Linked DNA regions of Homo sapiens: regions 2 and 3 are each reported to be linked to region 1. The links are microRNA targets in miRTarBase. Many come from high-throughput screens and were not tested one by one. Region 1 holds a microRNA gene; each other region holds the end of a gene's coding sequence. Distances are from middle to middle.

The links. The annotated mature microRNA hsa-miR-1295a reads UUAGGCCGCAGAUCUGGGUGA and lies in region 1 at 2,097-2,117, opposite strand. An mRNA with a match to its seed (bases 2 to 7 or 8) in the 3' UTR can be bound and repressed. Matches are read on the target gene's strand: a 7mer-m8 pairs with bases 2 to 8, a 7mer-A1 pairs with bases 2 to 7 and ends in A, and an 8mer does both.
Region 2: miRTarBase lists BSND as a target of hsa-miR-1295a. Seed matches in the 3' UTR shown: 7mer-m8 at 744-750.
Region 3: the mRNA of NOL9 is a reported target of hsa-miR-1295a. The part of its 3' UTR that is shown has no 7-base or 8-base seed match.

Annotation. Positions count from the first base shown.
Region 1 is chr1:171,099,642-171,102,989 of GRCh38, forward strand. It overlaps MIR1295A (microRNA 1295a), which reads right to left and starts at 2,165; the gene lies at 2,087-2,165. All of the region lies in intron 2 of FMO3 (flavin containing dimethylaniline monoxygenase 3), which reads left to right. It overlaps MIR1295B (microRNA 1295b), which reads left to right and starts at 2,098; the gene lies at 2,098-2,157.
Region 2 is chr1:55,008,303-55,011,302 of GRCh38, reverse strand. It overlaps BSND (barttin CLCNK type accessory subunit beta), which reads right to left. Exons shown (of 4, transcript NM_057176.3): 4 at 1-3,000. The coding sequence ends at 2,675. Among named protein-coding and RNA genes, the nearest start is that of BSND, 11 kb to the right of the region's middle.
Region 3 is chr1:6,523,394-6,526,393 of GRCh38, reverse strand. NOL9 (nucleolar protein 9) reads left to right here. Exons shown (of 12, transcript NM_024654.5): 12 at 391-3,000. The coding sequence ends at 540. Among named protein-coding and RNA genes, the nearest start is that of NOL9, 30 kb to the left of the region's middle.

The DNA.
Region 1 (3,348 bases):
AATGGTGGAGAAAAGATCCCAATTCAAGCTTGCCTTTCTCTCTAGTCTATTCTTAACTCCTTTGTAAATTGCTGGTTGCCATTTCACCAAGTGGCCTATCGAGCTGACCATGTCTTTCTTTTTTTTTTTTTTTTTTTTCTTTTTTCTTCTTCTTTTTTTTTAGACAGAGTTTCTCTCTTGTTGCCCAGGCTGGAGTGCAATGGCACAATCTGAGCTCACTACAACCTCCACCTCCTGGGATCAAGGGATTCTCCTGCCTCAGCCTCCCGAATAGTTGGGATTACAGGTGTGTGCCATCACGCCCCGCTAATTTTTGTATTTTTAGTAGAGATGGGGTTTCGCCATGTTGGCCAGGCTGGTCTCGAACTCCTGACATCAGGTGATACACCCGCCTCGGCCTCCCAAAGTGCTGGAATTATAGGCATGAGCCACCACTCCTGGCCAGCCATATCTTATACACAGTGATCTTAACCAAAGCCTCATACTCAAATTTAGTTTGCAAGACGTTGCTGAAGATAGAACGCACTGCTGATATGGCTATTGAGAGGAACACAGCCAAAGACAGCTAATTTGTCTTTTCTTGCTGCTCGAGGAAGACTTTAAAATTTGAACCTGGCAGCATAGGTTGATAAAACTGAACTGCAACATGTGCTACCCTTCAAGAAAAAGAAAGGATAGCCCAGAGGGTAGAGCCTCAGGCCCTGAGGGCAGAGGCCTGAGCCAAAGCCTTCAAGCCTGAAGGAATTTGTCCTACTGGATTTCAAAATTGCTTGGGATTAGTGATTCTTTTCTTTCCTCCTTTTTCCTCCCCGGTTAAATGGGAATGTCGATAACGGTTACCCATGCTTGTCCCACCATTGTATTTTGGAAGAAGATAACTTGTTTTCTAGTTTCACAGGTTCACAGATAGAAATTTTGCCTCATCCTGGTCCATATCCAGAGTCTCATTTATACCTGATTTAGATAATTTATATGATGATGAGATTTTGGACTTTTGAATTGAAAATATATAAATGAGAGTTGAGACTTGATTTCATGCTGCTATGGGTTGAGACTTTGAGGATGTTGGGATTGGGTTAATGTATTTTGCAGATGGGATGGATGTGAATCCTTGGGAACCAGAGGATGGCCTGTAATAGGCTGAACAATTTAACAATGCCCCTCCTCAAAGATATCACATCCAAATTCCTGGAACCTGTAAATGTTATCTTACTTACAAGAGAAAAGGGTATTTGCAAATATAATTAAGTTAAAAATCTTAAGATGGAGAGATTTTTCTGCATTATGTGGGTGAGCCCCAAACGCTATAATGAATGCATCGTTAAAAGAGAGAGGCAGAGGGAGATTTAACACAAAGAGAAGAGAGAAGGTGATGTGATGACCTCAACAGAAAGAGAGAAATTTGAAGATGCTATGCTCTATCTTTGATGATGGCCAGAGGAGCCATGAGTGAAGGCGTACAAGAGGGGTCTTGCCACTGAAAAAAATAAGAAATGCCAGCATCCACCAGAAGCCAGAAGCGGCAAGGAATGGATTCTCTCCTGGAGCCTCTGAAAATGAACATGGTACTGTCACACTTCGTTTTCAGCCTACTGATAGTGATTCCCGACTGCTGACTTCTAGAACTGTGAATCAATTGCTATTATTTTAAGCCATTAACTTTGTGGTAATTTATTACAGCAGCCACAAGAAACTAATACCTTTGGTTTTTCAGCGTTTCCTATTTTACTACTGTGAGGGGGCTTATAGATTGCAAATGATGGAGCAAACAGCAGTGTTTCTCAGATCACTAGAAGTCTGCAGCAATAGGCTTAGTATTCACATTATAAGATTGTTATAAAATTGTTCTAATTTTGTATTTGCCTTCCCTTTGGTTTCTAACATCATCATTTTACATTATCTTAACTTTTTTTAAATTTCAGAGAGATCCAAACATTGGTTAAAACTTAGCTAACACTAAGGGTGCATATAGTTGAAACTGTTGGAGCTGTTTACTACAGCACTTTCTATGCCCTTCTAGTTCTGACTTCTAACCCTGATCTAGAGCCACGATGATGTATTTCCCTCACCTTCTTTGGTCACAGAAGGAGGACATTTCACCCAGATCTGCGGCCTAATCACAGGCCACATTTCTGAATAGGCCACGGATCTGGGCAAAATGTCCTCTTTTCTCAGGAGCTCCCCAAACAATAAATCAGTAAATCATATGAATTTTTGCATGAAGTTTTATGAATAGTGGCTTTCTTCTGGGAATACCTCCCTTTTTTAACTTCCTCTGATTTTTTTCTGGACTATGTATCAATTTTTTTCTTTAATGTTTCTTCTCTCTTTATGCTGATTATCATCTCTTTAAACTTACCCAACTCACAGAAAGCTACAAATTTTTGCACTTCCCCATCCCACATGCCTATAGCAGAGTCAACAAACCATGTGAGCAGCAGAAAACTCATGTCCTATTTAAAGAACACGCTGCTTTCTGAAATGAACATGGCAACTAATCTGCCAATTAATTATTTGTCAATAATGAAACTGCAGCCACATTGGCTTTTGACGTGATTGTAATATTCCAATATTATACTAAAATTTCATGTTCTGGGAGCCCTGACAACTTTCAGTTAGATGAGCTCTAATTAGAAGTTTCTAGTGCTCAGTACTTTCCACTATGAACTAGCAACTACACATAGAGATCTACAATCTGATCTTTCATCATGAAACTTGAGATATAAGTACCTTGATGCTTCAACAGAGCTAAACCAAGGCTCCACCTCTTCCTAATCATGCTCCAACCAGTATTTTTTTTTAACTTAATGCCTTTTATTCATTCAACAGCTTGCTTTGCAGAGCTCACAGCTGTAACAGATGTGTCCTATGGTAAGCTCTTCCACAGTAACTGTAGCCTGTTGGTCATGAGCTTCCATTTGTTGAACTCTACATTGTGACTGACAAACTTGGCTGCACCTTAAAATTACCTGAAGAGCTTTTAAAACTTGCTGTCAATTAAATCAAATTCTCTGAGAGTGGGACCTAATGCTCAGTGTGTTTTTTAAAGCTCCCAGTTTATTTCAGTGTGTGGCTAAAGAACCACAACACAATATCCTAAACTTCTCATTACTGATCATTCTTTCTTCAATGTTCTTTTTCTTTATTCATCATCACTTAACATTTCCTCTAAGGCTTTATTAGCATAGTTCTATAATTCCTTAGAGTTAAAGAAAATTCAGATATTTTTACATCATTGAAAGCTAAAACTTTGTTACTTACATAAGTGCTTAAAAGGCATGCAATGCCCATAAATTCTGTGTTAGATTCAAAATAGTTAACCTTATTTTATACATTATAGAAATTCTA
Region 2 (3,000 bases), 120 Mb from region 1:
ACTTAGCAGAGGCAGTCGGTGTCAACCGGGACCTTCCTGGGCAGATCAGGTGTGTGGTCTCCCCATCATGCAGCAAGAGCCAGGGAGACCAAGCCTGGGTCTCACCATCTCACTCCACTACCCCAAGCCCCCTGCAGATGCTAACTCTAGAACAGGGTTACCATCTTCCTGCTGGCAGGCCCAGCAACCAGAGGCTCTTGTTTAAGTCTAAAGCCACTGCGGTTGTGGTTCAGGGGTGTGGGGAATCACTCCTGAGATTCAGCACCACACAGCACACCCCACGGTCATGCCACTGCAGTGAGGGCTTACTTCCGGAAGAGGGCCTCTGGTGCCCGTCAGGCGTAAGGCCTCACGTATCCTGCCCCGAGGGAAGGGGTGGTTTTAAAGAAAAGAATTTGCAGGTGAATGAAGATGACCCCTTTAAATGTTGAAAGTAGTTTTATTTTAGCCCTTAGTGCTGACGCTGTTTCTAACGTGGGTTGTAGGCTGCCCTGCCTTAGGCAACAGAGCACAGGAGCATGCTACCCCTCACCTCATCCGAAGACTCAGCTGTGACCAGGAACTCCTGTCCTGAGTCATGACAGCAGAGAGGGTGTACCCTGTGGCATCCTTCACTGCAGAGGCAGAAATGACCCAGAAAGAAAAGGAAGTGTGTTCCCAGGGCCATGACCTTGTAACCCAGCACACAGGGGCATCTCCTTCCCTAGGCCAGGACCCCCGGCCTCAACCCGGAAGCCCTTCCCTAGGCCGGGAACCCCAGCCTCAACCCAGAACCCCATAGCCCAGGTGAAGGTCTCTGACTCCCAGGTGGCCCAGGGTGCAGGCTCTGAGGGCGTGGTCCTGGTTTGAGGTAGTGTTACTGCCATTTTCTCTGCAGCTGCCAGGATCCTGGGCTGGGGCACAGGCAAGCGTTGCAGGGATCAGCGTAACAATAGCATCACCCTGAGATGGTTCAATAGGGTACAGTGATGTCTTCAGGGGCTGCAAAGACAGCTTGAGCTATTTCCCCACCATACTCAACTGCCCCAAACAGCTGGGAGGCTGTCACTCTTCTGCCTCTGGTGTGTCCATTTTTTACTTCTCTGTTCCCACCTCAGCTTCTGCTCTGCACTCACAGAAATCAAGCTCACTAGATTGTGAGCCCTCTGAAGGCAAGCACGGTGTCAGTAGTTCATGTCTCTTTACCCCTAGAGATCACAGCTCAATATCTGGCATATAGTAGATGCTCACTAAATGCCATCCAATTCCAATTGTTTTGTTTTGAGGCAGGGTCTCACTCTGTCACCCAGGCCGGAGTGCAGTGGTGCGATCTCGGCTCACTGCAACTTCCATCTCCTGTGCTTAAGCTATCCTCCAGCTCAGCCTCCCAAGTAGCTGAGACTACAGGTGTGCACCACCACGCCCAGCTAATTTTTGTAGTTTTAGTAGAGATAGGGTTTCGCTATGTTGCCCAGGCTGCTCTCCAACTCCTGGCCTCAAGTGATCCACCCACTTTAGCCTCCCAAAATGCTCAGATTACAGGCATGAGCCACCGCACCTGGCTAGCCAACTGATTCAAACTGAAGTAGGCCAGGAAGATGAATTTCACCTACAATTCCAAGTCAAAGCAAATGTATTCCAGAGGCAGGGGTGGGGGGTGGTGTTCCTCTGGGGGCTTTTTGCCTGCTTTGTGAATACATACAGGCCATTTAGAAGTTTGAATGCTGGGAAGTAAGAGGGCTGTGAGTCTAAAAGTTGGGAACGTGGGGGAGAGTGATTTTATCTGCAACAGGTTCCTGGGTCCTGGTGAGTTCTGTACACCCTTGATGACCACCGATTCTGGGCCAGGCCAAAGGCCCATCTGGGCACAGGCGATCTCAAGGTGAGTAAAGTCAAGATGCTGCCCTTCAACGGGAGGCAGGCAGCCATGCCACACTGACAAATATACAGGTCCCAAAGGCAGCGCAGAGAGGCAAGACCACCTGGTTCCAGGAGGCAGCGACATCAGGAAAACCTTTCCAAGGGAGGTCATCTGTGTAGGGGTTTGAAGGGTGAGCACGAATTTGCCAAGCTGAAAAGGGAGCCAAGGGCATCCTGGTGGAGGAGAACAGCTTGGGCAAGAGTGTGAGCCGCAAGATGGGCAGGGGGGCTAGGCTTGGAACTGGAGGAGCAGAGAGAATGAGGTCAGCAGGGGTCAGTCACAGAAGGTTTTGGGTCCTGGCCAAGGAGCGATGGGAGCTGCAGGAGGAATGTGGCCCAGGAGGAGATGAGGCTCCCTCTGTGTAAAGACGGATCACGCCATCTACCAAGTGGACTATAAGACACAATAGGAATGGGAAACCTGACTGGCCTTCACAAAGGATCAGGGGCCCAGAGGGAGCACCAAGGAAGGTTCCTCTCAGAGGTCAGCTTTGGGGGAAGGTGGAAAATGCTTTTGAGGGCTTCAGCTGCTGCAAACCTCAACAAATCATATTTTGCCTTCAAAGGTTGGCCAAAGACCACTAACTATTGGAAAAACAAGAGTCCACTAATAGTCATCATCCCCTCCCTGTGTATTTCTTTACCATTCTCAAAATGCCACCATCTCATTGAACCTCCATATCATCCCATTTTGCAGATAGGGAAACTGAGGCCCTGTGATGTCACACAGGGGTCAGCAGCAGTTCCAGACTAGAAGCTACGGAGCACAAACATCTCAGCCTTGGGTGTCAGGCTCAAAACCCAGCTCCTTGTCCGGGAGGAGGTCCCCGGCTCCATCTGGCAGCCCATAGTACAGGTCTTCCTCTTCCTTCTCAGGTTCCTCCCCACCTGTGTCCGAAGCCTCCTTCTCCTCCACCTTTGTCCTTGGGTACCGCTGCCAGTTGTTGGGCAGGGCTATTTCCCACTGCTGCCCCTCTTGGGGCTCATCCTCCAACGTTGGGGCATCAATCAGGGCAAAGTCTTGGAAGCGGTCCAGCGGGCACCTGCAGCCCTGAGGTTCCTGTTGTGGGGAACAAGCTTCCTCCCTGTCATGTGGAGATG
Region 3 (3,000 bases), 160 Mb from region 1:
TCTTCAGAGGCATCACGGGACCAGGTCAAGGCGTCTGTGTGCCCCAGAGCCAGCCACAGGGACTGCGAGTGGGCTCTGGGAACGGGGGATATTCCTACCATTCTCATCCTCCAGTGTCCCTCATTTGAAAGGGACGCACACTGCACCCCCACTCTGCCTCACGCTGTTTGCTGTGTTGATGGAATGGGACAGAAGGGAGGCCTTGGCACGTTTGTTACCGAGCCAGTTGATTAAAGGGGGCTCTGAAGGAAGGGATCAAATGCCTTAAAAGTGAGAAGTCCCCACCCAGACCATCACCATGACACTGCCTTCTAGGTGTGAGAGAGCACTGTAAACCCCTCTGGGCTGGACCTGGAGTGTTTCCATGCATTCTCTGTGTTTCCGTTTCAGCGTGGGATCGAAGGGACAGTACCTTATGTCACAACGGATTACAATTTTAAACTTCCTGGAGCATCAGAGAAAATTGGAGCAAGAGAACCTGAGGAGGCACATAAAGAGAAACCATACCGAAGACCTAAGTTCTGTCGAAAAATGAAGTGATGCTCGCGTTTTTAATAAGGGAAGAAACTTTCCTACCAGAAAGCTTTGTCTCAAGCCTGACCACAAGAGACATGATGGAGTTTCATGGCCATGAATGGTGCCCTTATTAGCAACAGTGTTTTTTGTGTAATTCGTGAATGTCATATAGTAGTCTTAAGTTTCTCTTTTAAAGCTGCATGAGCTAGAATTTGTTCTAGTCTTCTGTGTGATACTCATACTTGCTGTCCAGAGGGAGTAAAACAGCAGAGAACAGTTTGTGTGCCATTAAAACAGAGATTCCTCAGAAAGTTCTTCAGGGACCTGGTTATTAGAATCAGGATAAAAATAAGGAAACTGGGGCCATTACAATGTACCGAGAAGGAAGGAAGAAGGCCGACCTGCAGGATCTCAAGCATAATGGATACAAGGGCTCGCCACGGGCCTTGCCTGAGCCATGTGCAGAGCTGGGGTCCAGCGGTCTGCTTCCTTGGAGCCAGTGTGGATGGTTACAGCCCATCCATTTGGTGCAGTTGTACTTGGTCTGTTATATTCAATCAAGGTTTAATAGATAGGGCTGGGCATGGTGGCTCATGCACACCTGTAATCCTAGCACTTTGGGAGGCTGAGGCGGGAGGATTGCTTGAGCCTCGGAGTTCCAGGCTGGAGTACACCAACTACTCCAGCCTGAGCGACAGAGTAAGACCTTATCTTTTAAAAAAGAAAAGAAAAATTTAAACGGGTTTGATAGATATAAATTTGGACCCAAGAGCCCTTCCTTTTTTTTAATCCTGAGGTTTTATGCTGAGGAAATTTCTTTCAAATCTGGAAAACCTCGGGGCCAGGCGCAGTGGCTCACGCCTGTAATTCCAGCACTTTGGGAGGCCAAGGCAGGCGGTTCACGAGGTCAGGAGATTGAGACCATCCTGGCTAACACAGTGAAACTCCGTCTCTACTAAAAATACAAAAAACTAGCTGGGCGTGGTGGTGGGCGCCTATAGTCCCAGCTACTCAGGAGGCTGAGGCAGGAGAATGGCATGAACCCAGGAGGCGGAGCTTGCAGTGAGCCGAGGTCACGCCACTGCACTCCAGCCTGGGCAACAAGAGCAAGACTCCATCTCAAAAAAAAAAAATAATAATCTGGAAAACCTCTTCTGGGGGCTCTTATAAAAGTAGATTTGTCCAAATTGACTTCTGATCTGAGGCCAGAGACAACCACAGGGCAGAGCTGGAGACTGGGCTGTTTTGAAGGAAGAAGGACTGGCAGACCAGCTCTTGGGAAAGCTCCATTATTGCCTGTGGGAGGCTGGACCTGAACTTGCACCTATGAACAACCCTGCCATTTAGAGCTTTTTCCTGGGGGTGCCGGCGGCTGGTGACCAGACTGCCATTCTCCACGTTCTCCCTGGTGCTTCCGACTCTGTCCTCTAGGTTGGAAGTGGTTTGTGTAAACGGGTGATGGGACCAGGTCACATCATTTCTGCATTTAAGACAGCAGGATACTTCCTGGGGCTGAGGTTCAAACTGGTATTGTGACCACCGCTTTGACAGAATTCCATCTTCCCAGCATGATCACATTGTAAGACTATTAGGATGTGTGGGTTTTAACACTTATATACACTTATACAACTGTTGGTTATCATTGTCTTTAGTATTTTACAGTGGCCCCTCAGCACCTCTTAGACCCAACAGCAAAGGACTTAAAATAAGCACAGGAAACCTTGCTATGGTGATTAGTTTTGATACCTTTGAGACAATTGAGTCTAGCTTCTTAGTTGCCCCTTATTTATGTTGAAATCTGGCTCATTCATATGATGTTTTACTGTGCTGGCCTTGTAAAGAATTTTAAGACAATCCATCACCATCAATGTTTTGCCTTTCTCCACTTTCGTGTATCTTACAGTTATACTCACTGGAGGTCATTTGCAGCAAGGCTCTGGAAGAATGAAACTGGTGCCCTGTAATTGCATTTGCATTCAATCTAGGTTTGCCTTCAGGCTTTAAATGCGGCCTGTATGAAGGTCAAGTCTTTTTCTTCAGTCCCTATCAGTAAAGAAAAATCGTTGCCTCTAGAGGGAGCTATCAGCTGTGGGTCAGGTGGCCGTACTGGGGCTAGAGTTGGCCCAGGAAGCTGTACAGGGTTTAGGGAAGGAGGTTCGGAGACAGGGAGCCAAGGCCTCTGTCAGGTCTAGCTTGTGCCGGTCAGACCTGCAGCAGCACCATTCTCCAGGATGACAATTCATCCCATTATTGATGGCAGTGGCCTTTTTATCCTTTTTTTTTTTTTTTTTTTTTTTTGAGATGGAGTTTCGCTCTTGTTGCCCAGGCTGGAGTGCAGTGGCGCAATCTGGGCTCACTGCCACCTCCGCCTCCCGGGTTCAAGTGATTCTCTTGCCTCAACCTCCCGAGTAGCTGGGATTACAGGCATGCGCCACCATGCCTGGCTGATTTTCTATTTTTAGTAGAGAAGGGGTTTCACCATGT